7 linked regions of the Homo sapiens genome follow. The protein of the gene in region 5 purifies or fractionates together with the protein of the main gene of each other region. This does not show direct contact. Each region holds a gene or a part of one and is shown on either strand. Other genes may lie near its edges. The genes, in order: ARPC5L, MYO1C, BLMH, SERPINB12, RNF38, RAI14 and TGFBRAP1.

The links.
Region 1: the proteins of RNF38 (region 5) and ARPC5L purify together in Homo sapiens (affinity purification with mass spectrometry, with the first as the bait; one study listed by BioGRID). This does not show direct contact.
Region 2: the proteins of RNF38 (region 5) and MYO1C purify together in Homo sapiens (affinity purification with mass spectrometry, with the first as the bait; one study listed by BioGRID). This does not show direct contact.
Region 3: the proteins of RNF38 (region 5) and BLMH purify together in Homo sapiens (affinity purification with mass spectrometry, with the first as the bait; one study listed by BioGRID). This does not show direct contact.
Region 4: the proteins of RNF38 (region 5) and SERPINB12 purify together in Homo sapiens (affinity purification with mass spectrometry, with the first as the bait; one study listed by BioGRID). This does not show direct contact.
Region 6: the proteins of RNF38 (region 5) and RAI14 purify together in Homo sapiens (affinity purification with mass spectrometry, with the first as the bait; one study listed by BioGRID). This does not show direct contact.
Region 7: the proteins of RNF38 (region 5) and TGFBRAP1 purify together in Homo sapiens (affinity purification with mass spectrometry, with the first as the bait; one large-scale study listed by BioGRID). This does not show direct contact.

Annotation. Positions count from the first base shown.
Region 1 is NC_000009.12:124,871,498-124,875,417, reverse strand, and holds part of ARPC5L (actin-related protein 2/3 complex subunit 5-like protein), read right to left. Parts: exon of another isoform or gene 1,752-3,920; coding exon of another isoform or gene 1,732-1,751; exon of another isoform or gene 1,727-1,731; coding exon 1,654-1,726; intron 444-1,653; coding exon 267-443; intron 1-266. UniProt on the Homo sapiens protein: May function as component of the Arp2/3 complex which is involved in regulation of actin polymerization and together with an activating nucleation-promoting factor (NPF) mediates the formation of branched actin networks.
Region 2 is NC_000017.11:1,485,826-1,490,193, reverse strand, and holds part of MYO1C (unconventional myosin-Ic), read left to right. Parts: intron 1-2,521; exon of another isoform or gene 2,522-2,538; intron 2,539-2,964; exon of another isoform or gene 2,965-2,983; intron 2,984-3,062; exon of another isoform or gene 3,063-3,242; intron 3,243-4,062; exon of another isoform or gene 4,063-4,139; intron 4,140-4,368.
Region 3 is NC_000017.11:30,267,077-30,271,444, forward strand, and holds part of BLMH (bleomycin hydrolase), read right to left. Parts: intron 4,313-4,368; coding exon 4,195-4,312; intron 1-4,194. UniProt on the Homo sapiens protein: The normal physiological role of BLM hydrolase is unknown, but it catalyzes the inactivation of the antitumor drug BLM (a glycopeptide) by hydrolyzing the carboxamide bond of its B-aminoalaninamide moiety thus protecting normal and malignant cells from BLM toxicity.
Region 4 is NC_000018.10:63,545,054-63,549,421, forward strand, and holds part of SERPINB12 (serpin B12), read left to right. Parts: intron 1-573; exon of another isoform or gene 574-677; coding exon of another isoform or gene 678-680; intron 681-1,847; exon of another isoform or gene 1,848-1,896; intron 1,897-4,368. UniProt on the Homo sapiens protein: Inhibits trypsin and plasmin, but not thrombin, coagulation factor Xa, or urokinase-type plasminogen activator. May play a role in cell differentiation.
Region 5 is NC_000009.12:36,393,359-36,397,726, forward strand, and holds part of RNF38 (E3 ubiquitin-protein ligase RNF38), read right to left. Parts: intron 2,130-4,368; exon of another isoform or gene 2,046-2,129; intron 257-2,045; exon of another isoform or gene 203-256; intron 1-202. UniProt on the Homo sapiens protein: Acts as an E3 ubiquitin-protein ligase able to ubiquitinate p53/TP53 which promotes its relocalization to discrete foci associated with PML nuclear bodies. Exhibits preference for UBE2D2 as a E2 enzyme.
Region 6 is NC_000005.10:34,823,355-34,827,722, reverse strand, and holds part of RAI14 (ankycorbin), read right to left. Parts: coding exon 3,232-4,368; intron 1,394-3,231; coding exon 1,244-1,393; intron 1-1,243. UniProt on the Homo sapiens protein: Plays a role in actin regulation at the ectoplasmic specialization, a type of cell junction specific to testis. Important for establishment of sperm polarity and normal spermatid adhesion.
Region 7 is NC_000002.12:105,273,548-105,277,915, reverse strand, and holds part of TGFBRAP1 (transforming growth factor-beta receptor-associated protein 1), read left to right. Parts: intron 1-244; coding exon 245-302; intron 303-2,212; coding exon 2,213-2,356; intron 2,357-4,225; coding exon 4,226-4,368. UniProt on the Homo sapiens protein: Plays a role in the TGF-beta/activin signaling pathway. It associates with inactive heteromeric TGF-beta and activin receptor complexes, mainly through the type II receptor, and is released upon activation of signaling.

The sequences.
Region 1 (3,920 bases), about 88 Mb from region 5:
TGTCCTGTACCAAGGGCACCCTGTCTTGCCTGACATAAATCGGCAGCTAAAAAGCAAAAAAGTAACTGCAATTACCACAGACAGCAGGTCCCTACCAGGAGCTTCCTTGGGAGAGGGAAGTGATGACATGTCCCAGGTTGGGGCTCGTCCTCTGACCCCACACGCCTATCAGACCGTCCTACGTTTGTTCTGGAAAATCTGGCCTGCTGATCGAACCCCAAGGCAAGCCAGGTGGCTCACTGGGGCGCGTGGCAGCGTTCACATACCTTTTCGTGCCACTGGAGTAACACTGCGCTGCTATTTTCTGTGGGCTTCTCAAAGCCTTTATAAATGTACTTCATTAACAAGTCAACGCCGTTTCTGTCCAGTGACTGCACAGCCTGCTCAATCTCACTGCTCTTGAAGTTTGTGAGCACTTTCAGCACCACGCCCTGGGCTCGCTCCTGCAGACGAAAAAGAGCAAGTGAGTCCCAGAGCTGCGAAGGCACCGCCATGCCATGCCCCACACCAAAGCAAGGACACAGATCACCAGAAACACTGCCCAGTTTCTAATTCGTCCAGGATGGTTAAAATAAGTGGGTTAGAACGTCTTTTGTGGATTTAAATTTCAAAGTATCTTTTATTTATGCCAACAAGTTACCCTACTTATTTTGGGGGAGTAAGTAGTTTACTAGGACAAGTATCAACTCTGAGAGAGAGAGAGAGAGAGAAGAGAAAAGAGGGAGAGAGGGAGGGAGGGGCAGGGTCTCGCTCTGTTGCCTGAGCTAGAGTGCAGTGGTGCAATCTCAGCTCACTGCAGCCTCTCCCAGGCTCAAGCAATCCTCCCACCTCAGTTAGGGCTACAGGCACATGCCACCATGCCCAGCTAATTATTTTTTTTATTTTTTAATACAGACAAAGTCTCGCTATGTTGCCCAGGCTGGTCTCAAACTCCTGAGCTCAAGCGATCCTCCTGCCTCCCAAAGTGCTGGGATTACAGGCATAAACCATGGCACCCAGCCCATCACTATTTTAGATGACACCAATAAGGCCTTATTATACTCCACAATGGTGGTGGACTATTAAAAAATAAAAATAAAACCAGGTTGACTCGGCTGCAGCGTCCCTCTTGTGTTCACACCCAGAAGGGTGGGGCCATTCCCCAGAACTCTGTGAAGGTGCAGCCACTGGTGACATCAAGATGCTGTCACAGCTGCCAGAATCCCAGCTGCAGGGAGACCCCTTTCTCTGAACCAAATTTTAGACTTGGTGATGCAGTAAGCACAATTTAGTTTTTAGAAGGTAGGAAAGCGTACGGGTACTTAAAATCCTCAGGCAGACAAAGCCTATTTAACAGTCTGTGGGAGCATAAGCACCACAGGTGAGCGAATTCATCCATTTTCCTCATCAGCCAGGGCCAGGCTGACTTCTCAGCCTACGAGGCCGTGAGCAGGAGTGAAGGCTTCTGTGGGGAGGTTCTCGTATATAAACGCTGACAGCGTTGATGTCAGAGAAGCCTCACCACCTAGGGAGCGCCAGGAGGCTTCCCTGGAAGCCCCGCCCAGTGCCAACTCACTCCCTCTGATGTGGATGAAAGCTCACACTCGCACTGGGCAGACACCCACAGCCCTGGTCCCAACAGCACCCAGCAGAGCCGCAGCGCCACCCCTTTACCTTCACAGCTTGATTCTTGGTGTTGACGGGAGAGTTCCGCAAGGCTGCATGGAATGCCCGAAGCATGTCCCCTGTGCATCACCACCAGTTAAGGATAGCTAGGCTCAAGCACATCCATGCCGTCATGAACAAGCTCACTTCAGAAACAGCTCAGGAACAGAGTCAGATGGGATCTCATCCATACCACCCACCTTCCACGGCTTCCAGGGGGGCAGAGACGGTTTACAGCCTGCACAGGGAGGCTGCAGGGCACCTCTGCCAACCATGCAAACCCTCCTTTCAACTCCCTCTCTACCTTCCACGTCAAAGCAACTGTCCTGGAGGGGTAACTTGATGTAAAATTGGATTGTGCTCACTTGCACCTGCTTGGTGCTGAGCACTGTATCTCCCCTACTGGATCCTCACAGCACCCGTACATGTGAACTGGAGGTCGTTCTCATCTTCTCATTCTAAAAAAGCGGAAAATGTAGGTACAAAGGGAGACCTCCTAACTCTTCATCAATGCTCTTCATCAATTAAACTATTAAGGAAATTAAGATGTGCTAGAACTTCTAAGATCTATCGGGATCAATGAGGTCCCAACTGTTACCTGGAAAGAGTTTATCAATCTAACAGAAGCTTTTGCCAACAATGAGCCAGTCTCCACCCTTACCCCCCAACCTCAGTTGCAATCCTGACAACACATTCTTTGCTGAGTTCTGAATACCCAGCATGCAAAAGAAAATTACAATCTGGGTTAGGTCCCCAAAGGTGACACCTATTTTAAACTGAATTACATCAGCCAACTTTCATTTCCTCGTATGAAACACTGGCTTCAGCCAAAAAGCTTCAAAAATAGAACAAGGAATGGCTTCTGCCCAATCGGGTCTCTACTCCTCTTCATGCAGTGATACCCACGTGCAGACAGGAAGGGCCTTCGGAGCAGAGCTGAATCTCCTGGCTTCCCCAGTATGAGATCCATCTTGAGTGAGCTGGGTCTGCGCCACCAGGCAAGCCACTCCCAGCGCTGGTTCCCCAGCTCCCTGCTTGGCTCTGATCCACCTTCCACACTCAAGAGGCAGTCCAGTCCCTCTGTCTTTCAGTTCTGGAGTTCCTTTTCCCCATCCAAACAAGGCCAGCCTGATATCAGCCACTGATAACCTCTACTTTGTAACTCCTTTTTTTTTTTGAGACGGAGTCTCGCTCTGTCGCCCAGGCTGGAGTGCAGTGGCGCAATATTGCCTCACTGCAAGCTCCGCCTCCCAGGTTCATGCCATTCTCCTGCCTCAGCCTCCTGAGTAGCTGGGACGACAGGCGCCCGCCAGCACGCCCAGCTAATTTTTTTTGTATTTTTAGTAGAGGCGGGGTTTCACTGTGTTAGCCAGGATGGTCTCGATCTCCTGACCTCGTGATCTGTCCGCCTCGGCCTCCCCAAAGTGCTGGGATTACAGGTGTGAGCCACCGCGCCCAGCCCTTGTAACTCTTTTCTAATGTGGTGTCCCCAAAGCAATAAGCAGGATCCCATAGGCTGAACAGAAAACATAGGCTCACTTGCTCTTCATGTAAACCTGGCACAACTAACAAATGACATCATTCAAATGATGGATGGGGAAGGGCAGGTATAAAACTAGTCCACGGGGGCAAAAAGCTACTGCTGTGGCGTTAACTCAGCACCACGCGTCCAGCAATCACTCGGCCCATTGATGGGTGAGGGCCTTCAGCAGTTGGGAGATGTGGGGCGCAGGGAGGACCTCCCTGAAGTCACCTATCATTTGTGAAGCCGGCTGTCATACTTGGCTGGCTTTAGGCCTTTTCAGAGAACAGGCTGTGGTGCTGAGGGAATCCTGCCCAGCCCTTGATCTCCTCTAGATCTTCCTCAATCACGGCACAACTGACACTGTGGACCCAGGATTCTCTGACGTGGGATCTTAGCTGTGTGTCATAGGCCTCTGCCCACTGGATTCCAGTGGCATCCCCAAGCTGTAACCATCAAAATGTCTCCAGTTTCCTGGGGGTGGAGGGGAAGGGTGCAAAATCGCTCACAACCACTGCTCTGGACAGAGCCCTGATCCAGAAGTATAGAAGCTGCTTCACTGAAGGGGAAAGGAACTCATACTTTTAAATCGCCACAAGGTCTCGGATCCTGTGCCAGGTGCTTTCACACGCCATCTCATTCCAAAAATCCTTGTGACAATAATCATTATCTCATTTTAAAGGCAATGGAATTGAGGCTCAGAGAACAGAAATTACCTGCGCAAGGTCACAAAACTAAGCTGTCTACACGGCCC
Region 2 (4,368 bases), on a different chromosome or scaffold from region 5:
CGTGACTACTTGGTGTGAGGAGTGGAGGCAGGAGAGCAGGCCTGTTAATGCCAGGCTGTGATGACCAGCTCAAACAGTGCCACCCTTCTCTCTACAAGGACATTAAACAGGGAGTACAGGTTAGGGGTCAAAGGCCCTCTTTTTTTTTTTTTTTTTTTGAGACAGTGTCTCTGTCACTCAGTCTGGAGTGCAGTGGCATGATCTCAGCTCTCTGCAACCTCTTCCTCCAGGATTCAAGCAGTTCTCCTGTCTCAGCCTCCCAAGTAGCTGGGATTACAAGCGTGTGCCACCACACCCTGCTAATTTTTTGTATTTTTAGTTGAAACAGGGTTTCACCATGTGGGCCAGGCTGGTCTGGAACTCCTGACCTCAAGTGATCTTGCCTGCCTTGGCCTCCCAAAGTGCTGGGATTACAGGCATGAGCCACCGCTCCTGGGCCGTTTACTTTTTTTTTTCCCCCATACAAATTTATGTTAACATGTTATGGGTTTATTGCTTTGTTTCTTTGTTTGTTTGACACTGGGTCTTCTGGGGTACCCAGGCTGGAGTGCAGTAGCACCATCACAGCTCACTGCAGCCTCAACCTCTTGGGCTCAAGCAATCCTCCCACCTTAGCCTTCCAAGTAGCTGGGACCACAGGCACACACCATGCCTGGCTAACTTTTTAAAAAAATTTTAGTGGAGGCAGGGGTCTCACCACTATGTGGCCCAGGCTGGTCTTGAACTCCTGGCCTCAAGCGATCCTCCCACCTCGGCCTCTCAAAGTTCTGGGGTTACAGGTGTGAGCCACTCACTGCACCTTGCCTCTGTTCACGTTTGCTGGACCCCCCAGGCAGAGGTGTCTGGCAGCCAAAGATCCATGGTTGTGTAGCTAGAATGGACAGTCCTTGACCAAGGCCCTGTGAGCAATCAGGGTAGAGACCCTAAGTCGCCACTATCTCCTCCCCATTTCCCTTCACAACAATTCCCTGAGGTCTGGAACGGTCCTTGGTGGGCAGCCAGGCCCAGATCTAAGATTTGTTTAATAAACAGAAGTTGAAGCCCTGCTCTGTGCCACCCGTGAGACAAGCTGTGGCTGCCTTTCTGCTGCCTTGGGCTCAGTGGACATCGGTTTATAGCAGCAGTCCCGGGTGCCTCAGATGACACCTCCTCCCAGCCCCCAACACCCCTACCCCATGGCAAGATCTGTGTGCCCTTAGGCTGGGGGAACATTTGAGCTTTCCGCTGTCCGCAGAAGTCAGGCTTGTAGGCACCTGGCCTATAGGAGCTGAAGGGCACTAGATAGCCCAGGTCTGCTGGGCCACCCCATCCCCTGTGGTTCCAGTAAATGCCTCCCCAGGTGGGAGAAGACCCAGAGGCAGCCTTGGGGAAGAAGTCTCCTATGTCACTCAGGGGCCATGGCCTGCAGGGAACCTCTAGGCCCAGAGCCAAAGGCCCTGGCCCACTCCTAAAGCCCACATGTGACATAATAGAATCACACGACACCGACAGGGGCCTGAACGGTGTCACTGAAGGTCACAGCCCTGGTAGCCCTGATAACCGCACAAAGAGGCTCAGGGCAGCCCTGCAGTAAGGTGTTCCAGTGCCCGGGTTCCAGTCCCACTCCTCCTGAGACCTTGCACAAGTCACCTGCCCAGCCTCAAGTTCTTCTGCATTGGAGTGATGATACGGACCTCACGGCTTGGCTGGCGTCACTGAAAGGAGTAACCCAAGAAAGCGCGGAGAACGCAGGAGGCGCCTGGCGCTGCAGCCTCAGCCGCGGCGTCTTTCCCACCCAGGTTCCCCGCTTCCCTCCCCGCCCGGGGCTCGCGCTTCCGTCCAGTGAGGAGGGGCAGGCCGGGGGTTGCCAGTGCTGGAGCCGCCCTGGGGCCCGCGAGCGGCGGAGACGCCCCCTCCTTCCGCCGCCGGGCGGTGGCTGCGGGGGCGCCAGCGGGCATCCCGGGAATGCGGCGGCGCGGCCCGGGAACTGGAAGAAGCGGGCCCGACCCCTCCGCGCGCGGATTCCCCTCATTCCAACCGCGTGACGTGGAGGGGCGGGGCGGACACTGCGGCCGCGAAGCTCCGCCCCGTCCTCTGGCCGCGCCCCCGCTGGCTCCTGCCACGCCCCCGGCCCGAGTCCCCCACGCCTCGCGGGGCAGGGAGAGAGCTGAGCTTCCGGGAGGGGCTCTCTTGACCCTCTACCCCGTCTTCTAGGACGTTCCCCACCCCTGGGCGGGCTGGAGGCTGGGTCGCCTCCTTGCTCCCTCTAGATTTTCCTTGTTCTGTTTTGTTTGGAGACGGAGCTTCGCTCTGTCGCCCAGGCTGGAGTGCAGTGGCACAATCTCGGCTCACTGCAACCTCCGTCTCCCGGGTTCAAGCGATTCTCGTGCCTCAGCCTCCCGAGCAGCTGGGATTACACAGGCGCCCACCACCACGCTCAGCTAATTTTTGTATTTTCTAGCAGAGAGGGGGTTTCGCCATGCTGGTCAGGCTGGTCTCGAACTCCTGAACTCTGATGATCCGCCCGCCTCGGCCTCCGAAAGCGCTGGGATTACAGGCGTGAGCCACCGCGCCCGGCCCTCCCTCTAGATTTTAAACCTGGGGGCACCGCAGCGGGCGTCTCCTCCCGCCCTCCCCCGCCTCTGTCCGAGACGCCGCCATTCCCCCTCCCCCGCTCCCACTCCCCCACCAGCTGGTGCCCCCGCTCGGGGGTCCCCAGGGCCGCCGCTCCGGCCGGGTTGTTGCAGTGACGAGCCTTCCCCGCAAGGATCCGGCCCGCACCTGCCGCAGCCTCGCCCTCTCCCCAGGGAGCGGGGTCCGCGAGCTGGGGGTGGGGCGCTGGGGCTTTGGGTTCCCGCTCTGCCTAACCCCACCAGGGCGAGTCTGTGTACGCCGTTGTGTTGGTGGAGGAGGCAGGTGCCTGCAGACGCGCCTGAGGCTCTCCCCACCGGATCGGAAGCGTGGCCCACGGCCTGGCTCTCAGTAGGCCTCTGCCCGCAAGCAAGTGAGAAATGAGCGTCCGGCCGAGGGAAGGCGGCGGGTGGGGGCAGCGAGGTCTATAGGGGGTCTGGAGGTGCCTTCACGCTCTATCTCAGGCCACCCAACGGCCCTTCTAGGCCTGTGTTAGCCTCATGTTAGGGATGAAGAACAGAAGCCGAAACGTTAAGTGACTTGCTCAGAGTCCCACCGCGAGGAAGAACCAGCCCAGCCTTTTGCAGACTCTAGACGTCCCCGCCCCTGCCCGCGGTGGGATCTGAGCCAAGGTTCGCCCCAGGCGAGGGAGGGTGGTGCCCGCAGAGCCAAGCGAGGGAGGTTCTGCCGAGGCCGCTTCGGAGGTGGGGGGCGTCCCGGAGATCCGGAGGGACTAGGGAGGCCCCCTTCAAAGCAGGGAGGGAGATGGGCCGGGCGCGATGGCTCACGCCTGGAATCCCAGCACTTTGGGAGGCCGAGGCGGGTGGATCACCTGAGGTCAGGAGTTCCAGACCAGCTTGGCCAACATGGTAAAACCCCGTCTCTACTAAAAATACAAAAATTAGCCGAGTGTGGTGGCGCACGCCTGTAATCCCAGCTACTCGGGAGGCTGAGACAGGAAAATCGCTAGAACCCGGGAGGCAGAGGTTGCAGTGAGCCGAGATCGCGCCACTGAACTCCAACCTGGGAGCCAGCGCAAGACCCCGTCTCAAAAAAAAAACAGAAAAAAAAAGGAGGGAGGGAGGAGGTCCGGGCCCAGAGGCGAGTGGGGTGTCCCGGGTGGGGAGAGGCTGTGGGCCCCAAATGCCGTGGGCGGGGGGGACGCGAATTTCCCAGAGGGGGAACTGAGCCCTCCAGAGGGGCCGGGTACTCCGCGCGCTCGGCCAGGGCACCCGTTGGCCGTCCCTGTCCCTGGGGCGCGAGCTCCGTGCTGACGAGGAAAACCAAGATCTTCCTGGGTTCGAGGCTCGGACCAGGCCCCGGCGCGTGTGGGTGGACGGCGTCCCGCACGGAGAACGCTCCGCCCGCCGGGCGCGCCGGCCGTATTTGGACATTGGTTCTATTTTTAACTTTCCCGGGACTCGAGTTCGGGGGTTGGGGGAGGAAAATCCCGCTTCCTCTGGGACCCGCAGGCCTCGGTGCCCGCCCAGCGCCCAGGCCCGCCGCGGAGTGTAGTCCCAGGCCCGGAAGTGAGTTCCGGGTCGGTGTAGACGCGGCGGCCGCGCGGGTTCCGGGCTCCACCCTGGTGCCAACGGCGTCCCTCCTGGAAAACCTGACTCAGGCGGAGCCCGCCCCCGCCCCCGGCCCGCGGACCCCCCGCCCCGACACCCCCACCTCCACCAACCCCACCTGGAGGGGACCCCAGCCCGGCCGCGCGGGAGGCGGGGGAGGCCGGGGAAGCCCCGCGCTTCAGGGGCC
Region 3 (4,368 bases), on a different chromosome or scaffold from region 5:
TCTATACAGGCAGCCTGCTCTAAACAGTACTTGGTCAGGGCTATATATTTCCTACGATCACTAAAGGGATACTCCAGTAGAAATGGAATTTGAATCTCTTGGGGTAAAAACATAATAAACTAACAAAGCAATAAATACTATTTCATCCTTTCTATTCTATTGTATACATAAAATAGGCATGTAAAAATGCTACTTGACTAAGAAAAACTATATTAACCTACTAAAAGCAGTAAACATTTGAAGCTGGGGATTCTTGCTTTTAATCAATCAATATTGATTAAAGCAAATGCATCCTACTTTATTTTAGGAATAATTCTAAAACCTGGTCAGAGTCTTTTTTAAACAAAACAAAACAAACTCATCATACTGCCTGATTTTCTACTTGGGGAAACCAAATAATGATACTCTCCCAAATGCATTCTTTTACTGATCCAGTTACACAAATATTGAATTTCAAAGAAGAGACTGAATGGCAAAGCAAAAGTAAAAAGACCATTTTCATAAACAAAAGCCAGGCACTTCTACTGTTCTCCTTCTTCCATCTTCATTATTAAAATAAGCTCAATTTTGGTCTTCTTAAAGGGACAGTGATACTCATCACAACAACCTTCATTTACAGCCTTTACTATAGTGACACAGAGAGGGACAAGAGGAAGGCTCCATTTGGGAAAAGACTTTTTTCTTTCATGTTTACCCAGGACATTTACTGATGTCAAGGCAACTTAAATCTTTGTAGCATGAGAAGAGCACTCACCCCTGTATTATCGCCTAATGATTTCATCTGTCAACTCCCACTTGCAAATAACTATATGATGAGTCTCATCTATATGGGATTTGGTTCTCTTTGGCTCTGCTAACCCAAACACTCCACTCTTGGCAGTTTTCTTGGATCTCAGTAATTTTCTGTCTCACAAATAGCGCCAACAAACTCACAAGTTTCACACACCCTTACCTGTACTAATCCTTACTCTTTGCCCCCAAATCCTTTAAAACCATATCGTTATATACTATACATTCTGCAGCTGGCATATTATATGTCTGTTTTGGTTTTCTATTCCTCCCACTGTAGTCCAACTTTACTTTCCTTTTAAATATCACTGTTAGAATCGATGTCACCTAAAGTGATATAGTTACTTGTTACTCTAAGTCTGAAAATGTTTCCTATGTTTTCCCCTTGGCCAATGAATTCCTGGAGTGACCTAGATCAAATTGTTCTCTGGGTCATCTACAATTACAAAATGATTAATACCTGGAACTCCCTTATAGGGATTCCATGATATCAGCAACAAAAGAAAGAAAATTGTGGAAATATAACCACTAGTATGCATTTACCTCTGTACTATTACTCAAGTGTAGTTCAAACTCGTTTTTGGGATCAAAAACTCTAGTGGAATGAAGAGAAAATGTTCAATATAAAATTCCAGGTATAATAATATAAATTCTGCTTTATACCATTAGCATGTAAGGTAGCTCCATTTTCCTAAGGAAACAACCCATGCTAATCAAAGAATGGAAGTTCCCAAGAAAATGACAGTGGTATTCATTATTTTTATTCCTGAAAAATAGGAGTATTCTATAACAGAGATAGAAATGATAAAAAGCTGAATTTTTCTTGGAAATTACAAGTTTTTGTTTGTTTGTTTTTTTAAAAACAAACAAACAAACAAAACAAATTCTCGGCTGGGCACAGTGGCTCATGCCTGTAATCCCAGCACTTTGGGAGGCCGAAGCAGGTGGATTGCTTGAGGTCAGGAGTTCAAGACCAGCCTGGCCAACATGGCGAAACCCTATCTCTACTAAAAATACAAAAAAAAAAAAAAAAAAATTAGCCAGGCCGATGGTGCACGCCTGCACTCAGGAGGCTGAGGCAGGAGAATAGCTTGAACCCAGGAGGTGGAGGTTGCAGTGAGCTGAGATTGTGCCACTGCACTCCAGCCTGGGCGACAGAGCAAGACTCAGTCTCAAAAAAAACAAAAAAACAACAACAAAAAAACACAAAACAGAACTCTATATAGTTTAAAAATTTATTTAAAGAACTTTAGTTTAGTTATAAAGCACCCTTATTTGAAAAACCTTTTCATGTATTTTATTTATTTATTTATTGTTTTTTTTTTTTTTTGAGACAGAGTCTTGCTCTGTCACCCAGGCTGGAGTGCAGTGGTGCAATCTTGTCTCACTGCAACCTCCGCTTCCCGGGTTCAAAGGATTCTCCTGCCTCAGCCTCCAGAGTAGCTGCTGGAATTACAGGTGCACGCCACCATGCCCAGCTAATTTTTGTATTTTTAGTGGAGACAGGGTCTCGCCATGTCGGTCAGGCTAGTCCTGAACTCCTGACCTCAGGTGATCCTCCCGCCTCAGCCTCCCAAAGTGCTGGGATTTCAGGTGTGAGTCACTGCACCCGGTCTAAAATTCCTTTTATAACCTAACTTTATGTTTTGTTTATAATTCAAATGTGAGAATTTTGTTAAATTGGGGTGATAACACTTAAATCACCTTTTGCTGTTTTAAAATGACTTTTCTTGATCTACATAAGTAATGCAAATTATACTCCACACATTCTCCTGGGTAACCCTAAAAACCTGTTTCTTGGTGTGGGAGTCTCGCTAACTACAGAGCTGAGATTACTGACGAATGGAATAATGAGGAAAACAGCTCGCTGGTTTACAAGACCTCAACCTTTACATTTATTTATGAAAACTACATGAGGATCAGGAGTATCAGCATTAAGACTGCCTCTTAAGTTCAGGGCACCTTTACACCATACTGTGTTTGATCTCATATAAAACTGAGAATACCTCAGAGTTCTACTACTTAAAGCACTAGCCTTATAATTTGCAGGAATGTAATTAAACCTTTAAGACCAAGTTTTGAATACAGAGAGAGCACAGGGATCTTAGATGCTGTGGGGTTGAAAGGGCACCCTTCAAGTGAAGTAGTTGGAAGAGGTGAGAAAAAGGTACAGAAAGAAAACCCCATCCCACTCACAATTCTGCATAGAGTATAAAAAGCAAATCAGGACTTTTAGATAGGCTAGTTAGGAAAATGTGGCATAATGATATGCTAAGATATTTCTAAACATTTTAAAGATCATAAATCTAGTGGATAGGATAGCAAAAACAATTCTCTATCAAACCATTTTCTAGCTGGGTGCGGTGGCTCATGCCTGTAATCCCAGCACTTTGGGAAGCTGAGGCGGGCAGATCACCTGAGGTCAGGAGTTCGAGACCAGCCTGGCCAACATGGCAAAACCCCACTTCTACTAAAAATACAAAAAAATCAGCTGGGTGTGTTGGCGGGCACTTGTAATCCCAGCTACTCGCAAGGCTGAGGCAGGAGAATCTTTTGAGCCCCAGAGGTGGAGGTTGCAGTGAGCTGAGATCACACTACAGCACTCCTGCCTGGATGACAGAGTGAGACTCCATCTCAAAAAAAAAAAAAAAAAATGATTTTCTAGAACAATTTATATAAGGTAGTTATTCTGTGACTTTCCAGGAATTAGGCTAGAAAGAATATTTTTGCTTGTGGTGGTAAAGAATTAAAGTAGTTCAAGTTCTTCCTTCCTGATGATCCTGAGCACAGAGGTGAAAATATCTATTTTTACTGACTGGAAGTGAGGAGTTTATTTGTGAAAGATAAAATTTCAGTTGTTTCCAACTCTATAACCTATAAAAAGTGGTATTACTATACACACTATTTCACAGGAAATTCAAAATACTTTACATCCAATTTCCTGAAGCTCTGCATATAACTAGAAATGGGTATGGAGTCCACAAATTACTGTTATTGACATTTTACTGCAAAAGAATCTGAATGACAAATGAAGGGAAATCTGAACATAGGTCATCAAGATATGAACACTTTCAGGGCACATTTTGATTCCTTATAAAGTAGAAGTTATCTTCTCTCAAGTTCCCTTGCTGACTTCTCTTTAAACCATGACCTTCCAAAGTTACAGAAACAGTTACTTGGTCGCTCCCTGCTGACCCAAATTCTCCTCATAGAAAGTTCCTATTTTTATATTACCTCTAAGCACGCAGCCAAGCCCCAAGTGACGCAGGTACGATGTCTTACTTGGAAACTAACTTTTAACAGAAATCATATACACTATGAATGAAGCTTTGTTGGGTAAACAGTCTACAGGAGAATGTAGATCCATCTGTGCAAACACTCCAGCAGGCATGCTGAGGGTCATACCTTCTCTGAGACAGCAGTGAAGGTCATGGCGTGGGTCATAAGTGACTCACCAAAAGTCAGCCTCTCCGCTTTATTCATGTTCTTCAAGGAGACACCAAACACTAACTCATGGTCATAGCTGTAAAAAGAATGATAGTACAAAATAAAGGGAGTACGATCATGGGGAAAACTGGC
Region 4 (4,368 bases), on a different chromosome or scaffold from region 5:
CTCCTTAAATTTTTAATTCTAGGCAGAAAAAGGCTAATTGCTGAAAGATTTATTGATTGGCTCATAATTCTTGCTGAGTTGTAACATACCTAGGAGGAATCATCTAGCTCTATACTTGATGAAGTAAACATTATTTTTACGGCCTGTTGACATAGAACTATTTTTTTTTTTTTTTAGCTTGCCTTGAATAGCACTGTCAGGCTAGTTGACCTCCAAATTTCTTTCAAACCCTAGTGTAATTCTCTGGCACTTGAAGTCACGGGTACTAGAGAGGCTCGCTTTCTTCAGCCATTCAGTGATATATTACATGTGTAAAGTACCAAATGCAGCTTGACATTTAGTAAGTGCTCAAGAAATTCTCATCCCCTTGTTAGTGATTTATCAAGCTACCTTAATGTTTAGCTACATTTAGTGTCAGATTTCATCTTCGCTCATTGAGCAATCGCACCACACCAAATTTTTAGGCTTGTAGGGCACAGTCATCTGTAGTTAGATCTTTGTTGAATTATTTAAGAGGATAAACAGATGCAAATCTAGATTAAAGACATTCAAACAAGTTTATACTCTTCTCAGGTACCCAGAAGCCCAGTGAAATTTGAATATTATCCCCCAACAGTAACAGATGTGACACCTACTTCCAGGAAGCCAGGCAAGAACTCATCCTGTTCTGAATATGAATGGTATACCCTTTTGGAAAGGCTATGATGGGCAACATGAAGTAGTAATCAATGACATAAAATATTAAATAATTCACGTGTTAAAATTTTCCAAACTCTTGCAAATCATAACCAATGACTAGACTGGTTTTTAGAATTTTGTGGAAGAATTTAGAAAAAAAAATAATTATTTTCAAATGATCAAGGAGTAAAGAAAACTAACAGCACGTTTCTTTTCTATGCTTACTATTGATAATTCAGAAAAACTCTGGATGCTTAGTCATTAATTTCCACTGGTCAATATCTTATAAAACTTGTTTTATTTATACACTAGCTACATAAGTAGTTTATATTTTCCATAAAGGCCATCTCTCCATTTTAGAAAGTTTTCCTTTGAATTTCTCTACACCTAATGTATTTGTAGGGTCATGGTTCAGATAATATTGTTGTCTGACAACAAGTTAGAAAAGGAAGATAAAGGGCTCAGTAGGAGAACCAGGTCAGAGAGGGGTCCTCGTTTGTCCTTAAGACATGTCAGTTCCTGGAGTTTGACTCTTCCTAGCTTTCTCCTAGTTGCTCCACACTTTTTGCCCTATCCACTGACCCTCATGTTTACAGTCAGTAACATAACACGATTGTAGAGTGCTAGAACCAAAAGTAACATCAGAACATGCTTTGGCTAAGTTTAAAAAGTTTTGTGTTTTCAGTTGTAAAATATGTGTGTCAATAATCAAATAATAATTCTCATCCCTACCACACACCTACTGCAGGAAAGCAAAAACTTTGAAGTAGCTTAGAGCACATTTTGCAAATCCTATGTAATAACTTAGAAAGATTTTAGAATAATGCAAAAATTCAAATATAAGAAATCATCTAAGACAATGTGTATATGAAGTAAAATACATTTCTGCTTCATGGTCTTCTAGTATAGAAATTTGAATTGAAAAGTGTGAGCCAAGTATTGCTTTGAGGGCTCTATAAAATTGGAAAGAGCAAAGAAAATATAAGCATATTAAGTTAAATATTCAATGTAGTTAAAAGCATAGCATTTGTTTTAAAAATATATGCCACTCTTTTCTTTTCCCTTTAATCTATCAATGATGATTTTACTCTGGATTCCAAAATGGCACTGGAAAAGTTCCACAGAGGGAGGGGCAAAGTTGATATATTTCCATTCCCGACAGGGTGTGGAGGGAAGCTTACCTGACCAGCTGTTAGCAGCAACTCTGAGGGCAAGAAGGTAAATGCTCGAATTGCCTGATATAATTTTTAACAATGAACACTGAATTGGAAAACCATTTTAAAGGATAGAAACCCAGAGGAGATGTGATTGAAATAGAAGGATATACTTGTTTTTATTAAGTCAAATACTTAAAAAAAGTGAGTTAGTTTTATGATGTTTTGGATTTTCTGCAGATGTGGCAGTCATCACTGGGAGATATTAACAATGCTTGTCACCTCGCTCAGCCCCAACCACCTGGTCAGATGCCTGATGTATATGATTGATTTTTTTAAAATGTAGATGTTTGAATAACTTTTTAAACTTTCACATACTTGACATATTGTATTTTATCTTTTAATGAATTATTTCTGAAACATAAGATGGTATAATATTTAGAATATCTATATTTTAAACAATGTGAGTTAGATTTTTTTTTTTTGCACCATAAGTTGGAAAACACTTTCGATGGTATTGTTCACAAGTATTTCTTTGTTTTTAGATATTGGTTATTATTTAGTTTGCTGTAACCTGGTTTGAATATTTGTTCCAGCAGAATAGCATCTATTTGTGTAAAGTTTGAATTTCATTCTTGAGTTGTTAGTAGCTTTGTGGGAATTATAGAAATTATAAGACATGAAATATTTTTGGAGTATAAATATTTTTCTTCCTACTATATATAGGAAAAAACAGTTTTACTCAGAATATTTTGGGTTGTTAGAATGTCTATCTTGTCTAAACCTTTACATTTTTACTATAAGGGAAAATTGTAATAAATGAACTTTTTCTTATACAGTAAATGAATTTTTTTTATATTGCAGTAAGTGAACTTTTTCTTATATAGTAAAAAATTAATAAAAAGCTGATTCTCTTATGCAGAATCTCTGTTAATTACAGCTTCCTGCAGGATATATAAAGTTAATATGAAATGCTAAATAGTCTTCTAACATTTCAAACATTAGGATTATCTACAATGAAAAATGGGCAGATGACAGCAAATCAATCCATAAATATTATGAAGGGTTCTCATGTGCTACCATTGTGTTCTTCACGGATGGGTACAAGGATGAATTAAAAACACTGAACCTACCTTCAAGACAATTATGATTTGGAAGTAAAGACATCAGTATAAAAAATAATTACCTTACAGTGTGATAGAGGAGTTAAGGGAAACAAATGTTGTATGGTTATTGTATACAGTGGTGACTAATTAACTCTTTAGAGGGAGAGGTTGGAGGAAAGTGGAAGAAGGTTTTACGTGTGTAACAAAGCCAGAAGGAAAGAAAACAAGCAAAATAGATCATTTGTTGATACCTCAAACACCATAAAAATGGAAAAAAATACCTTTAAAAAATTAAAAATGTTACACATTTCAGATAGTCAGTATTTAAAAATGTATCTTCAAAGCTAACAATGTAAGTTAAAATCTTACAGGAAAGATTTTCTTTCTTGTAAAAAATTGAAAGTAGATGAGGTTTTAAAATTAAGTTGAAAATACATTACCCTCAAGGTTTTGAAGTGATAGAAGAGAGTGCCAGAAAATATTGACAATTTTCAGTAAATAAGAGTAAAAACAATTCTATAATAACAATAAAGAAAATAAAGGAAGGTAAAACAGGGGAAATTTTTTTAAAGAACAAGTTTGAAAAACATAAAATGTTTATATAATATGAAGAGTTCATAATGATCCATAAATAAATGATCAAGACCTCAATAGATAATTGAAAGATGAACAAGAGACAGTTAATATGTGAGAATTTATAAAGAGAAAAGAACACATGGAGAAACATTCAAATGTTAGCAAGTATCAATGCCATGTAAATTTAAAAATAATACAATTTTCTTTTTATTTTTTAAGTTATTAAGAATGGCAATAATATCTGAAAAAGGTGATTATGATATAGCAGTTTCATCTGTAACTTTTGGCTGACAGTATGAAAGTTAAAAATCTTTATAATATTTGACCTAGAAATCCCATGTTGAAGAAGATACTCTGAAGAAATAATATGAAGGGAGATAAAAGCTATATTTATGACAATGTTTATCGTAGAATTATTCATATTAATAAAAACTGGGAAGCTAATTTAAGTATCTAGCAATATGATGTTAGTTTAAACATTTAGATAAGTCAGTATAATGAGATATTATAAGGCCATTAAAAGAACATCTATGAAGACAGTATTAGGATAAACACTTAAGATGCAATTTGAAGTGAAAACAAGTGAACATAAAATGTTCATATAAACAGGCACGTACACACACATCAATGCAGTGATTGAGAGATTGGAAAGCACACGGAAAAATAAAGGCGATTTATTTTTCAGTATTGTGAGGGCAAAATTCCTCATTACTATTATTCTGCCATCTGTATAACAAATTAGACCTTGAGAATAAAATTCCTTCTTCTACTTCATTAGAAGTTAAATCGTGAATCCCTTACTTGGAAAATATTATAGGCAAAAATATGATAGTATTTGTATTGATATAAAATGA
Region 5 (4,368 bases):
GACCAATATAATGGAGAAAAGCTATATTCAAAATAAGTCTGGGACAAAACCATAGATGGGCTTGATTAAAATGAGGTACAATTTTTACTACTAGGTAAAATAAAATCACACACACACATTGTGTGTGTGTGTGTGTGTGTGTGTGTGTGTGTGTGTGTGTGTGTGGGGCAGGCAGTCCCATACATAGGTTGCCCAAGATTACCTCTGGTGTCCATCTCCTGTACAACCCCCTTCCCCATGTGCGCAGGCAGGGCTGTGAATGTGATGTATTTCATTCCCATTATTAGGTTAAATCATATGACAAAGGAGGAAAGACGTTCAGATGTAATGAAGATTCCAAGTAAGGTGAATTCAAGCTAAAGACAGATTATCCTGGGTGAGCCTGGGCATGACTTAATCAGAGAAAGCAGAACTGAGTCCTTCCCAAGAGATTCTCTTGCCAATTCTTCAGACTAAGATGTTGTGAGAAGGCATGCGAAAGGTACCATGTGGCAGGGGCTTGAGGGCAGCTTCTAGGAGCTGAAAGCAGTCACCAGTTGACGACCAGCAAGAAATGGGGGACCTCAGTCCTATAATCACAAGAACCACATTCTACCAGTGAACTTGGAAGGAGACACGGATGAAATCACAGCTCTGGGCCGGGTACAGTGGCTCACGCCTGTAATCCCAGCACTTTGGGAGGCCGAGGCGGGCAGATCACAAGGTCAAGAGATAGAGACCAACCTGGCCAACATGATGAAACCCCATCTCTACTAAAAATACAAAAATTAGCTGGGCGTGGTGGCGCACACCTGTAGTCCCAGCTACTTGGGAGGCTGAGGCAGGAGAATCACTTGAATCCGGGAGGTGGAGGTTGCAGTGAGCCAAGATCGTGCCACTGCACTCCAGCCTGGCGACAGAGCAAGACTGTCTCAAAAAAAAAAAGAAAAGAAAGAAATCACAGCTCCTGCAAGGTAAGACCCTGGGGGCCCAGCAGCTAACCCCATACCAGGACTCCTGATTCATGGAAATTGTAAGGAAATATTTGTGTTTTAAACAAATAAATTTGTAGTAATTTGTTACAGAAAACACAATGTGTATGTATATAACTTGAATAAAAATTATTGTACCACAGTGAAAAAGTTTCTTCTCCAGAATTTTGGCTACACTGATTTGATTACAAAAGATATAAAAATTAACACATTTTTATTTAAGCAGTATAGCAGGTTTTAAAGCCTCAATCTGGTAACAGCTAGCTTCATGCCAGAAACTGAACTGGGCTCTCCCATCTTTATACACTGAACATCAGGTTTAACAGACTTGCTTAAAGTCACATACCTCAGAAATATCAAAACCATAATCTGAACTCAAGTCTATCGAATTCTAAGGTTCATACTCAACCCACAAAACCACCTTCTACTTTAAAGTAACATTCTTTTTTATAATCTAGTTTGATTAGTAAGTATCAACTATTCCACCAGGCCTATTTAAAACCATTTTTAGTACTTAAAAATAAACTTGTTTCCTGAAAACTGATATAATTTTTCTCTAGGCTGGCAACTTTTCAGCATTACAGATTTGCTAACTCTGGCTTTCTCCCAGAATGCAACCTGTATTTAAAAAGTCCTGCCAAGGAAACATCCTGAGACCACATTAAGTCTGCAACTCCCAAAACTTATCATGTTTAATGTCTATTTCCATATAATCATATGACTAATTCATTAAGCATAACTAAGAAAACCCTATTTCACAAAACTAAAGTTTACAGAAAACAGTTTAACCTTTTAAGCATCAACACTACTATTTTAGGACATCCTTTGTTTAATCTGGCCATTCTGTGTTTTGGTAACATAACCAACAATTTAACTTTTCTTGGAGACTTGCAGGTATTATTAGTAATTATCGCACTAAAATTAGCACTTAGGACAAGACACTGTCCCAAAACATTTAAAATTGCTTCTGACAACAGCATCCTTCTTCGTTCATTTCCTTTTTTTTTTTTCTCCAGTAAAAGTGAGAGAGAGGATACAGGTACATGACTTCTAAGCCAGTATGACATAACGTACTTCTACAAAATAAGGTGTTCACGAAGGCCCACAAAGCATTCTTCAGCATACCAACTGGTCGGTCAAAAGCACTAAAATCACAGCCTAATATAAAAGACGAAAACAAAACATTAGATGAGGAGTCAGGTGCTTAGTGTCACCTCTAGCTACAAGTCTGGTTATCTGTAAAATAAAGTCAAATCCAAAACTCCAAATATTCTCACCACTTCCATGATAGCAACTGTTAATCTCTTGGAAGTAATTAGGTAGATTAATAATTTAAAAAACATGTTTGAATCTCTAATATTTAAACTGACAAATTATCAGGTTATATACCAAAATACGAGAAAAGCCATATGCATGAATATGGTCACCACAGCACAATAATAGCGACAATTTAAAAGGTAACTAGAAGCAACCTAAATGTTTAACAAATACTTGCTAAGTAAAATTACGGTACACTTGCTTGAACTATGCAGCCATTAAAAAGTAGCAACCAGAAACACTACTACTTGGGGGAGGAGAAAATTATTTAAATGCTATGATCATAAGGTAGGGTTATATATGAACAGGACTTCATAAATTCAAGAAAAAAGTTATCTTGGAATATTAGGAAGAAAAACAGAGAACTCCCTATAAAGATTAAATAGAGCAGCCAAATCAATGAGGTGACTTGAGCATACACTCAGGAGAACATGTATAAGCTCCATGTCCTGTTCAGCACAATGTCACTAACACCTAGAAGAGTACATGGCACATAGCAGGCATTCAACTATTTATTAAAAGAATAATCTTCCAAACTGTAAGCAAATGATGTAACAGCCTGCCTTTCTGATTTGTGTAACAAGTTTCTTAGAAATCTGGTTGGCAATGAGACAAGCTAAAAGCTTTGATCAAGGAAGAGATCTGATGCACTCACCTGCAGGTTACCATTAAATGAAGTCAGTGGTTGCCCAGTAAGTCCACCCCATCCTACTGAGGCAGAATAAATCATTGAGCTACTGATGCATGCTGTGCTCCTTGCTAGGATTTTTTTTTTTCCCTGTTCTGAGAATAAACTAGACCTAAATGTCACCTTTCCTTTGAGAAGAGTTCTATCACTGGGCCTAAAACAAATCTGTTTCCTTGGCTTTTGTTTTCTGGGAGCAGAGTTCTCTGAAAGGATTTTGACAGTGTGGAGCAGGGGTACTCAAAGTCCCGGATGGCATTCTTCAAAGCTGGTCCAGGAGAGAACACTGCAAACAGGAATGGGACTGTGCACGCTTAGAGTTATGCAAAAGGCAGGCCTGGATGGGCACAGGGATCTTTGGGGGATGACAGAAATGTTCAAAATGTAACCAAAAAAATCTAATTGAATGGAGTGAATTTTATGGTATATAAAACATAACTTAATAAAGCTTCTTTAAAAAAAAAAATCGAGAGCCTGGTTCTGGAAAACTGAGGTCCAAACACTGGGTAGAACTGACCCTCTGAGATGTTACTACCCTTTGAGATCCAAGACAAAATTTCTAAGTCATTCATCTCTAAGCTTCAACAGTTCTCATACACAAATGACACATGAAAAAGACTGAAAGGAATAAAAAAAAAATCATTCTCTCACTACACAACGGTCACAATTTGCTTTATATATGTGTGTGTGTGTGTATATACGTATATACGTATATACACATGTATATATACGTATATATATGTGTGTGTGTATATATATATATATATGTTTTGTTTTTTTTTTTTTGAGACAGAGCTTTGCTCTTGTTGCCCAGGGTGGAGTGCAGTGGCGCAATCCTGACTCGCACAATCCTGACTCACTGCAGTCTTCACCTCCTGGGTTCAAGCAATTCTCCTGCTTCAGCCTCCAGAGTAGCGGATTACAGGTGCTGGTCACCACACCCGACTAATTTTTTTATTTTTAGTAGAGACAGGATTTCATCATATTATTCAGGCTGGTTTCAAACTCCTGACCTCAGGTGATCCACCAACCTCGGCCTCCCAAAGTGCTGGGATTACAGGCGTGAGCTAAAAAATAATTTAAAAATAATTTTGAAAAGCTAATAGGCAGTATTAGGAGAAACCATTCAAGGACTGGTACTATGTGGGTGAGGATGTTCATTACTGCCCAGCACCGGACAATCATTTCTAAACAGAAATTATGGTTCCCACTCTTGAGTTAGGCAAACAAACAGGACCCATCTCTTTCTGAGAGCACAGCAGAAATAGGGTGTGTGAAAACAGCCTAAGGCTCCCCTACTTCCTTTCCCCAGTCCACAATCCCATAAGGTGATGAAAAAGAAGGAAAAGGGAAAAGAAAACAGATGCAACGAAAGAAATCCTCTATCCATTACAC
Region 6 (4,368 bases), on a different chromosome or scaffold from region 5:
TTATCTACAAGTCTGTAATACCATTTTATCAGGAGAAGAATGACCTGCAGAACACAGTAAAGAGCAGCTTCTCCTAAGTATCCACCATTTCTAGAGCTGTTTCCTCCAAAGCTAGCATTGAACTTTGTGGCCAGCCAGAGTAAGGACTGCAGAAACCTGAATTCACTACAGTTAGGTCTATTCCGAAGAAATCATCAAATCCATGTTCTGTTTGTATATGGAAGCTAGAGACAGTCCAGGACAGACTAACCCTGGACTTTAGGTAGAAAACGGAATGTACCCATGCCAACTCAAACCTTAACAGATATTGTGGTAAGCTAAATAATGGCTCTTGAAAGATGTCCACATCCTAATCCCCAGAACCTGTGAATGTTAAACTTTATATGGCAAAAGGCATCTTGCAGATGAAATTAAGGGTTTGAGATGGAGAGGGAGATTATCGTGGATTATCTAGGTGGGCTTTAGATGTAATCACAAGAGCCCTTATAAGAGGGAGGCAAGAAAATCAAAGGCTGAAGGAGGAGATGGGAAGACTGAGCAGATGCTGGAGTGATGTGCCTCGAAGATGGAGTAAGGGGCCATGAGCCACAGAATGCAGGCAGCCTCTGGTACTGGAAAAGGCAAGGAAATTGATTTTCTCCTATGGTCTCGAGGAGGAACCAGCCCTGCCAACAACTTGAAGTTAGTCCAGTGAAAGTGATTTTGGAATTCAGTTCAATGCAACTGTAAAATAATACACTCATGTTGTTTTAAACCAAATTTGTGGTGATTTGTTACAATGGACCCAGGAAACAAATTTAGATAAGCAAGGGCTTTCCTGGGTGAAATAAGGAGAGGGGCCAAGAAGCAGCTTCAGATATATAGAGATGCAACTACTAGAGATCCTGGCCCCTAACAAGAAAAAGCTCTTGCCACTGCCAGAGATGGGGAAAGACTGTTGCAGAAAAAGGAGAAGGGGTAAAAAGTTAGGGTATGAGTGAGCACATAGCCTCCTCCTACTGTCCTGTCGGTTCTTTCCTTCCCAGTGAATATCTGACCCGTTGCATTGCTGATAACGACCAGGAATTCCACCAGTGGCTCCCTCTTTTGCCCTCACTGAAGAAATCAGTCAACTGCTCATTGAAGTACATTCCTTTGGGCTGGGAATCTTTTTGTTCACGCCCACTTGCCCTAGCAGCTGAGATGGTAGGAAATCTGCCAGGCCCTCCACCCCAAACCAGGCAGCAGAAACAAGCCCACTCACCGCCAGCTGGTTCTGGAGCTGTTTGACTTGCTGCTGCAGCGCCTCCAGCTGCTGACTCTGCCTTTTGGATGAGCTTGTTGAGTAGGAGAGCTGGGAGAGGCTGTTCAAGGCCTCCTTCAATTTGGTGACTTCCTTCGACATCTCATTTATCTAGGGGCAAAGGAAAATGGTATTAGCAGACAGTAACATGTCTACAAAGCAAAATTTCATATATTTGTAAGCCTCAAACATAGTCATCTCTTTTGGCCTCTGGGACTTAAGACTTTGGAACAATTCCTTTTTAATACATTTAAATTAAAAAACTCATAAAATGAAATGGATGACAAAATCAGGCAAACTAACAAAGCCCGCTACATCCATTAGGTTCAGATAAAGGCCCTTGAATTACATATTATGTTTTGGTGATGGCGGTAACAAAAGCTGTGATGTTGGTTTCCTACTTTTACTCTTAAAATGGGTATGATTGAAAAAAAAAATCAGAATTAGGATTTCCGCTTTTATTTGGAGACAGCTATATTTTGTCCAATACTGCTGACATGGGTGATCAGGAATAAGGTCTAGGAAGCCTGATATCTCTGGACGTCTTTCTTTAAAGTAAACACAACTAACTCCTCACCGTACCCCACCACTCCCTAATCCCTGTTCCCCTGGATGATAAAGCTCTTTTGAAACACTCATTACAAAAGAATAAAGACAAGTAGTCTCTCATGAATGCTATTCGGAACCTCCGAGACAGGGGACTAGAGATGCAGAGCCGATTGAGGCGTGGAACCATCCCCCTGAACTTCCCCTTTGCTTCCCTCCTTCCTCCAGCAGCACGGCCAGCACCATCTCTTGTGTCCAGCGCCATCTCAAATTGCCGGCTCCCCACATTCCTCCCCCTTCCTCTCCTATATACCTGTCAAAGGAGGGACCGGCGAGGGTAGCTTTTACAGTGACTTGAGGGGAAGCTCATGGACCTTAGGGAAACAGGATTAAGTCTAGGAGTATTTTAGTTTCATATTATGGAGGAATCTGTTCTGAATCCAAAAAAAGAACCTGAAGTTTGAGGTGGATCACAAATACTTTCCAGTTTGCAGGTTCACTTCTGATCCCCAATACTGGCAAAGCTTCTGTAAAATGATTTTTAAAGGACAGATATATGAAAATGCTTTAGTATAAGGAGAAGTGGCCGAAGATTGATGTTTGCTTATTGATTATTTTTTGAGGCAGGGTCTCACTCTGTTGCCCAGGCTAGAATGCAGTGGTGTTGATATGGCTCATGACAGTCTTGACTTGTAGGGCTCTAGTGATTTTCCTGCCTTAGCCTCTCAAGTGGCTGGGACTACATGCTCATACCACCATGCCTGGCTAATTTTTAAATTTTTTGTACAGATGGGGTCTCACTATATTGCTGAGGCTGGTCTCAAGCCATCCTCCCATCATGGCCTCCCAAACTGCTGGAATTAGAGGAGTGAGCCACTATGCCCAGCAGATGTGTTTTTAAAATACAAATACCCAATAAACTATTCTTTTTTTTTTTTTTTTTTTTTTGAGATGAAGTCTGTTCACTCTGTTGCCCAGGCTGGAGTGCAGTGGCCTGATCTTGGCTCACTGCAACCTCCACCTCCTGGGTTCAAGCCATTCTCCTGCCTCAGCCTCCCTTGTAGCTGGGATTACAGGCGTGTGCCACCACGCCCAGCTAATTTTTGTATTTTTAGTAGAGACGTGGTTTCACCATGTTGGCCAGGCTGGTCTTGAACTCCTGACCTCAAGTGATCCACCCACCTCGGCCTCCCAAAGTGCTGGGATTATAAGCGTGAGCCACCACGTCCGGCCGACCCAACAAACTATTCTTAATGTGGCTTTGGTGACAGATAAAGTTCATGTGCAGAGCCTCTGAGCATTCACTCCAGTTTAGTGCCAACACTAGAAATATTTAATATAGTAAAAGCCAAAGAGACTAAGACTTATTGCTAGAAACCCAACAGCAATACAGTTTCACCAACCTTTTTATCTTTATCTTCCTCCAGTTTTGAAGAGCTCTCAGCGTATCTTTTCATTTCTGCAAGTTCTTCCTGAGCTTGCTGGAATTTTTGCAGAAGTTCATTTACTTCTTGCTCTTTGGATTTCAAGAGAGTCTGAATATTTTCCTTTTCTCTTTTCACCTGTGAGACCTCACTTCTAATCTGGACAACCTCTGAATGGACCTTCTCTTTCTCTTTCACAGATTCCTTTAATTTCGATGCCAACACACTCACTTCACTCTCTAAGGATGACTGGAGTTTTTCATAGGAAGACCGAGGTACCATTGCATCAGTCATAGCAGCTTTCTCTTCTAAGAGTTGTTTCTCCAGCTTTGCTACTTCCACTTCCTTGCTTGCAAGGTGTTCCTTAAGATTGCTTATTTTTTCTTCCATCTCTTTTGCTGCAGTCCGCAGCGTGGTTATCACTTGCAAATGTTCTGTGATAGAGACAGAGTTCTCTTTTTGTGCATCCACCAGTTGTTTGAGCTGGGTCAACTCATTCAACACTTTTGAATACTGAGACTTCATTTCAGACAGTGCATCTTCTGCTTTAGCCCTGGACACGTTTGTCAATTGCATCAGTTTCTCATGCTCTGCTTTATGGATATATTCAGCTGTGACATCCTCTAGAGATTTCCTCTTCCTGTAATCCTCCAGCTCAGCCTGGGCTTCTTTGTACAGCTGTGACAGCTCGCTCACCTGTTTATTGAGTTCATCTATCATCCTATTCATGGCTTCTTTCATGTCCTCAGCTTCATCACTGGCTTCCTGTGTCATCTGACTTTTTAGTGTGTCTTTTAATTTCATGATTTCTTCTTGGGCTTCTTGGTATTTCTCAAACAAAAATGCTTTCTCCTTATTCATATTCTCAATAACAGAGCAATATGAACTTTTCATTTCCTCGTACTCTTCCACAGGTGGCTTAATCACTGTACCTTTCTCCCTCTCTACCAGTTTTTCCTCTAACTCTCTCACTTTCTCTTTATTTCTTTCACTTTCTTCTAATGCATTCTGCAGATCCTGCTTTAGCACATTTATTTCCTCTTCCGTGACCCTCAGCTCGTGGAAATGTGAATAATTATCCATGCTTTCAGGTGAGACAAGACCGAGTTTCATCTG
Region 7 (4,368 bases), on a different chromosome or scaffold from region 5:
GCTAATTTTTAAAAATATTTTAATAAAGACAAGATCTCACTATGTTGTTGCCCAGGCTGGTCTCAAACTCCTGGGCTCAAGCCATCCACCCACCTTGGCCTTCCAAAGTGTTGGGATTACAGGCATGAGCCTGAACTCGAGTTGAATAGAATATGGGGAGCTTGGACTGGGGGTGTCACTGTGTGAAGGTCGCCTCCAGGAGCTGATGGGGAGAGGTTGTACTTACCGTGTTGTTCTGTTTCAGGTATTTTGCACTTGGACTGCTCTATCATTATAATAACCAAGATGCTGCTGCAGTTCAGGTGAGTCTAGAAGGGTTTCCACATGATTTAAAAATCAGCACCATGTAAGTAATACTTAGTGTTACTTAAAAAAAATTCACAAGTTGATAGAGACCACTTTTGCCTGATCTACACCCTTTTATACAGAATAAAAATGATTCTGTTTTAGAAAGTGAATTCCTGGAGAAATGTTGGCCAAGAGTTTTCTTCTCATTGTCTTTCCATCTCCTTAAAGAACATTATCAAGACTGAGTTTTTGAAAACTTAAGAAATGAAAATATGATCTCACAGAGTTCCAAGTCATAATATATCACTACCCTTATCAGAAAATTTAGGCAGTGAATGATAGTCGGATTTACCATTTCCACTGTTAGTGATGATCACTGTTGCCAATGAGCTGGGTACATTATTATCCTTGTGTCACCTGTGACAAAACCAAAGCTGATGCATGCCAGTTGCTTGCCCGAGGCCATGTGTCCGTGGTAGATCTGGGATCTGAACCGCGCTCCATTGGCCTGGCAGGGGTCCTGCACCCTAATCAAAATGGCATCGATTTATTAGCATTGTCACATTTTGTATCTTACATCTTGCTACTGATCTTGAGAAAAGCCTCATCTCACACTCTCAGGGGGAGACTTTCTCCCCTTCGTTATTAGTTATGCATTTGTACTGCACCGTGTTGTTTCCTGATGTGCCTTTTTGCTTTATTTTGTGAGGGGCCAAGAGCATCAGCCATGTTCCCCAAGCTAAAGTTAACCTCATGACTCTGGCAAGGCTGAACATGTATTTAGTGTTTGATTGCTTTGTGAGACTATTGTGGTAACCTGATTGCAGAGCAGAACAACAACAACAACAAAAAATGGAGTTGGGTGAATTAACACGTACCCAATGGCCAAGAGTAGATTTGGGTGTCAGTGATAAAATTTTCATTTTCAAAAACCTGGTGTTCTCAGTTACAGCTTTATATAAGTATAGTAATAACTTTAGCAGAGCTGTAGAGAGATAGATTTGCAAACTTGAAGTGATATGGGATAAATCTCCATACGTGGTAGAATTTTATATAAAATGGCATATTTCAAGGTATGTGTGATTATTTGGTTTCAGCAATTCTGTGTTGAAGAAACTAGTATCATAAAAAATGTTCGTATGCTGACATCAGAATTCCAGAATTCATATGCCACCCCTGTTTCTGGGCTCCTTCCTGGTGCTGTGGCTTGGAGGGGTGGTGCTGTGTATGGGTGGGTGAGGCACGCCATGCAGGTATTGCAGAAGGAACCCACGCAACCGTCATCCTTTCTACCCCCAAGTGATGCTGCCTCATTCTGGGGTCCTGAAAGTAGGCTTCACTTAACATGGTAGGGAAGTTTCTGGCTGAAAAAGCAAAAGGCTTTTATCACTGGAGTCTATCCTGAGCCCCCTGTGCAAAAGGCAGTGTGAACTCAGGGGACAGAATCACTGAAGCTTTTGTAAAAGCACAACATCTGCCTATCACAGTCCAAAGGGGACTTCAAAATCAAGAATGTCTGTGACGGAGAAGATGGAAACAGAGCCTGGCTGATGGTTGTAGGTGAATCTTCTCTGTGTCGAGATGTTATCAGTGACCGTTTTCTTTATTTCATGAAGAAACATTTTTAATATATTCACCTCCCTGCATATATTCTGTTTACTGTGTTATTGTTAAAAAAAGAAAGAAAGATAAAAGAACCTAGAGCTTAATTTTTTTTTTTATTTCTTGGACTATGTCTTTTTACATTTCTTTATTTCTCCAAAAAAACTAAAATTTAAGCATTTACAGTTTTTCCAACTACTTTAAAAGGTATTAAAAAGCCAAATAAGTAAACATATGCCATTTCTCAACTAATTCTGAGATATGTGCCTTTATGATTGTTTTTTCTTTTCTTTTTCTTTTTTTCTTTTTGATTCCTTTCCAGTTGTGGGTGAACATTGTGAATGGCGATGTCCAGGACTCCACACGCTCAGACCTGTATGAATACATCGTGGATTTTCTTACCTACTGCTTAGACGAGGAACTAGTGTGGGCCTATGCTGATTGGGTCCTGCAGAAAAGTGAAGAGGTTTGTGCTTCGTAAAAATGCATTCTCTTTGGTTGGGGGAGGTGGTAAAAACAGACCCCAAAAGCTTTGCTTTTAGGAGGGGAAAAGAAAGCTACATTTCAACCTCCTCCTCTGTTTTTTGTTGTTGTTATTATTCCCCTTTTAATACCTTCCCTTGAGCTCTCTGGATTCTAGCTCTAGGGCAGTTCTGCATCTTGCTGCTGAGACATTCCATTGAGAATCCCCTTGCTGGGGCAAGTCACTTGTATAGAAAAGCAAGACATAGCCAGCTTGCATTTTTAGCATCTTCTTAAGAACTTGTGTCTGTGAACCCCGCTCCTCGACCCCTCAGAAGTCTGACACTGCTGTTTTCTGGAGCAGGATTAGGTGGTTGCCCTGAAGGACTTGATCTTTGGGAGGAGGAAGCACCCAGACCTGGGCCACACTGGGCCCTCATCCCTGCTCCCACCACTGCCAACATGGAGCTTGTGGGCCTGGAGGAGGGAGGGGAGCCATGAGCAAGACTCGGCCTGTCCTGGAGGCTGAGAAATGCTGGCAGTGAAAAAGCACCTGTTGGCTAGAGGGAAGGTAGCAGGCTCAGGACAGTATCCTTAGTAAAGCCCCACAGGTGACCACAGGTGACTGGGAAGAAGACAGCAAGCATTTCAGTTCTCATCGTGAAAAACGTATACGCTTCCATGGCTCCCCTTGGAGAGACAAAATGAGCTTTCTGATGCAGGACGTTGGTCCTGAATGGAGAGTTTCTGAGTGCTGCATCTGCCTTTCTAAGACCTGAGTTGGAATATATTCTCATATCCTCCGTGGTGCTGGCTTCCCTGGAAAATCAGAGCCAGGCACTTGCACTTTGCATACTTGTTTCTCCATCTTTACTTTGCCTCTGTGCACACGCCTGCAGAGCACATCCTGACCTGCTCACACACACCTACAACATGGATCTCAGTGCCGTTGCAAGGTTTAGGCTTCTCCCAATGCTTATGGATGATAACAGCAGATACTGCACGGTGGACAATCCCCTGACAAAGGTCATCGCTTAAACATCATAGCAGCCCCTCAGTGGGCATTAGCTACAGATGAGGAAACTGAGGCTATAGTTGGTAGAGCTGGGACACAAATCCAGGCTTATAGAATCCAAAATTCATACCATAATACATGATACGTGAATGTATTGGCCTTGGAGGGGGGAGGTGCGTGTGTGCGTGCACATGATAGAACCTCCCACATGTAAGTGCTCAGGGGAGGTGCAGTGGAGAGCTGCTTTCCTGCCTGCCTCACTGTCCTTTCCTTGAACCAGAGGATTGGACCAGTGCCTCCACTTGATGGACACAGGAAGGCAGCCCGGAAACTTACTCAGGGACTGGAAGCTCAGATCTCAGATTAACCATCTATCATAAATAACCCAGAGTAGATAATCCATGTTCAGAGAAGTGAGTTTACTGTACAGAAATTTCAGCACTTTTGATATCTTTTCACATACTGTTCTGCAACTGGCTATCCCTGTTCTTGGATGATCTTAATGTTATTATTATAGGTTGTCAAAATCTGTCACCAGTAAATGCTTTGTTCTTCAGTTTCCAATTTGCATGGGGTGTGTGAGGAGGACTTCAGGGTATAGGCTGGCTTTTCTATCTTGATTTTTTGCCCTCTGGCCTTTGACAGTGCTTCATGCTGGGCTGTTTTTCTCCATAATTATATTTTTTAAGCCACTGTATTGAGATATGATTGACATACAAAAAGCTGTGCATACATAATAATTTAATCATATTTTAAGTGATGATTTTATCCAAAGCTTGAATGTGCAATGACCAAAATAAAGTTAAAGGAAAGGTGGGTTTGGGAAGCACAGTCACTGTATTGTCGCTCCTCTTTCAGGTCGGAGTTCAGGTTTTCACCAAGAGACCTTTGGATGAACAGCAGAAGAACAGTTTTAATCCAGACGACATTATCAATTGCCTTAAAAAATACCCTAAAGCCCTTGTGAAGTATCTGGAACATCTTGTGATAGACAAGAGACT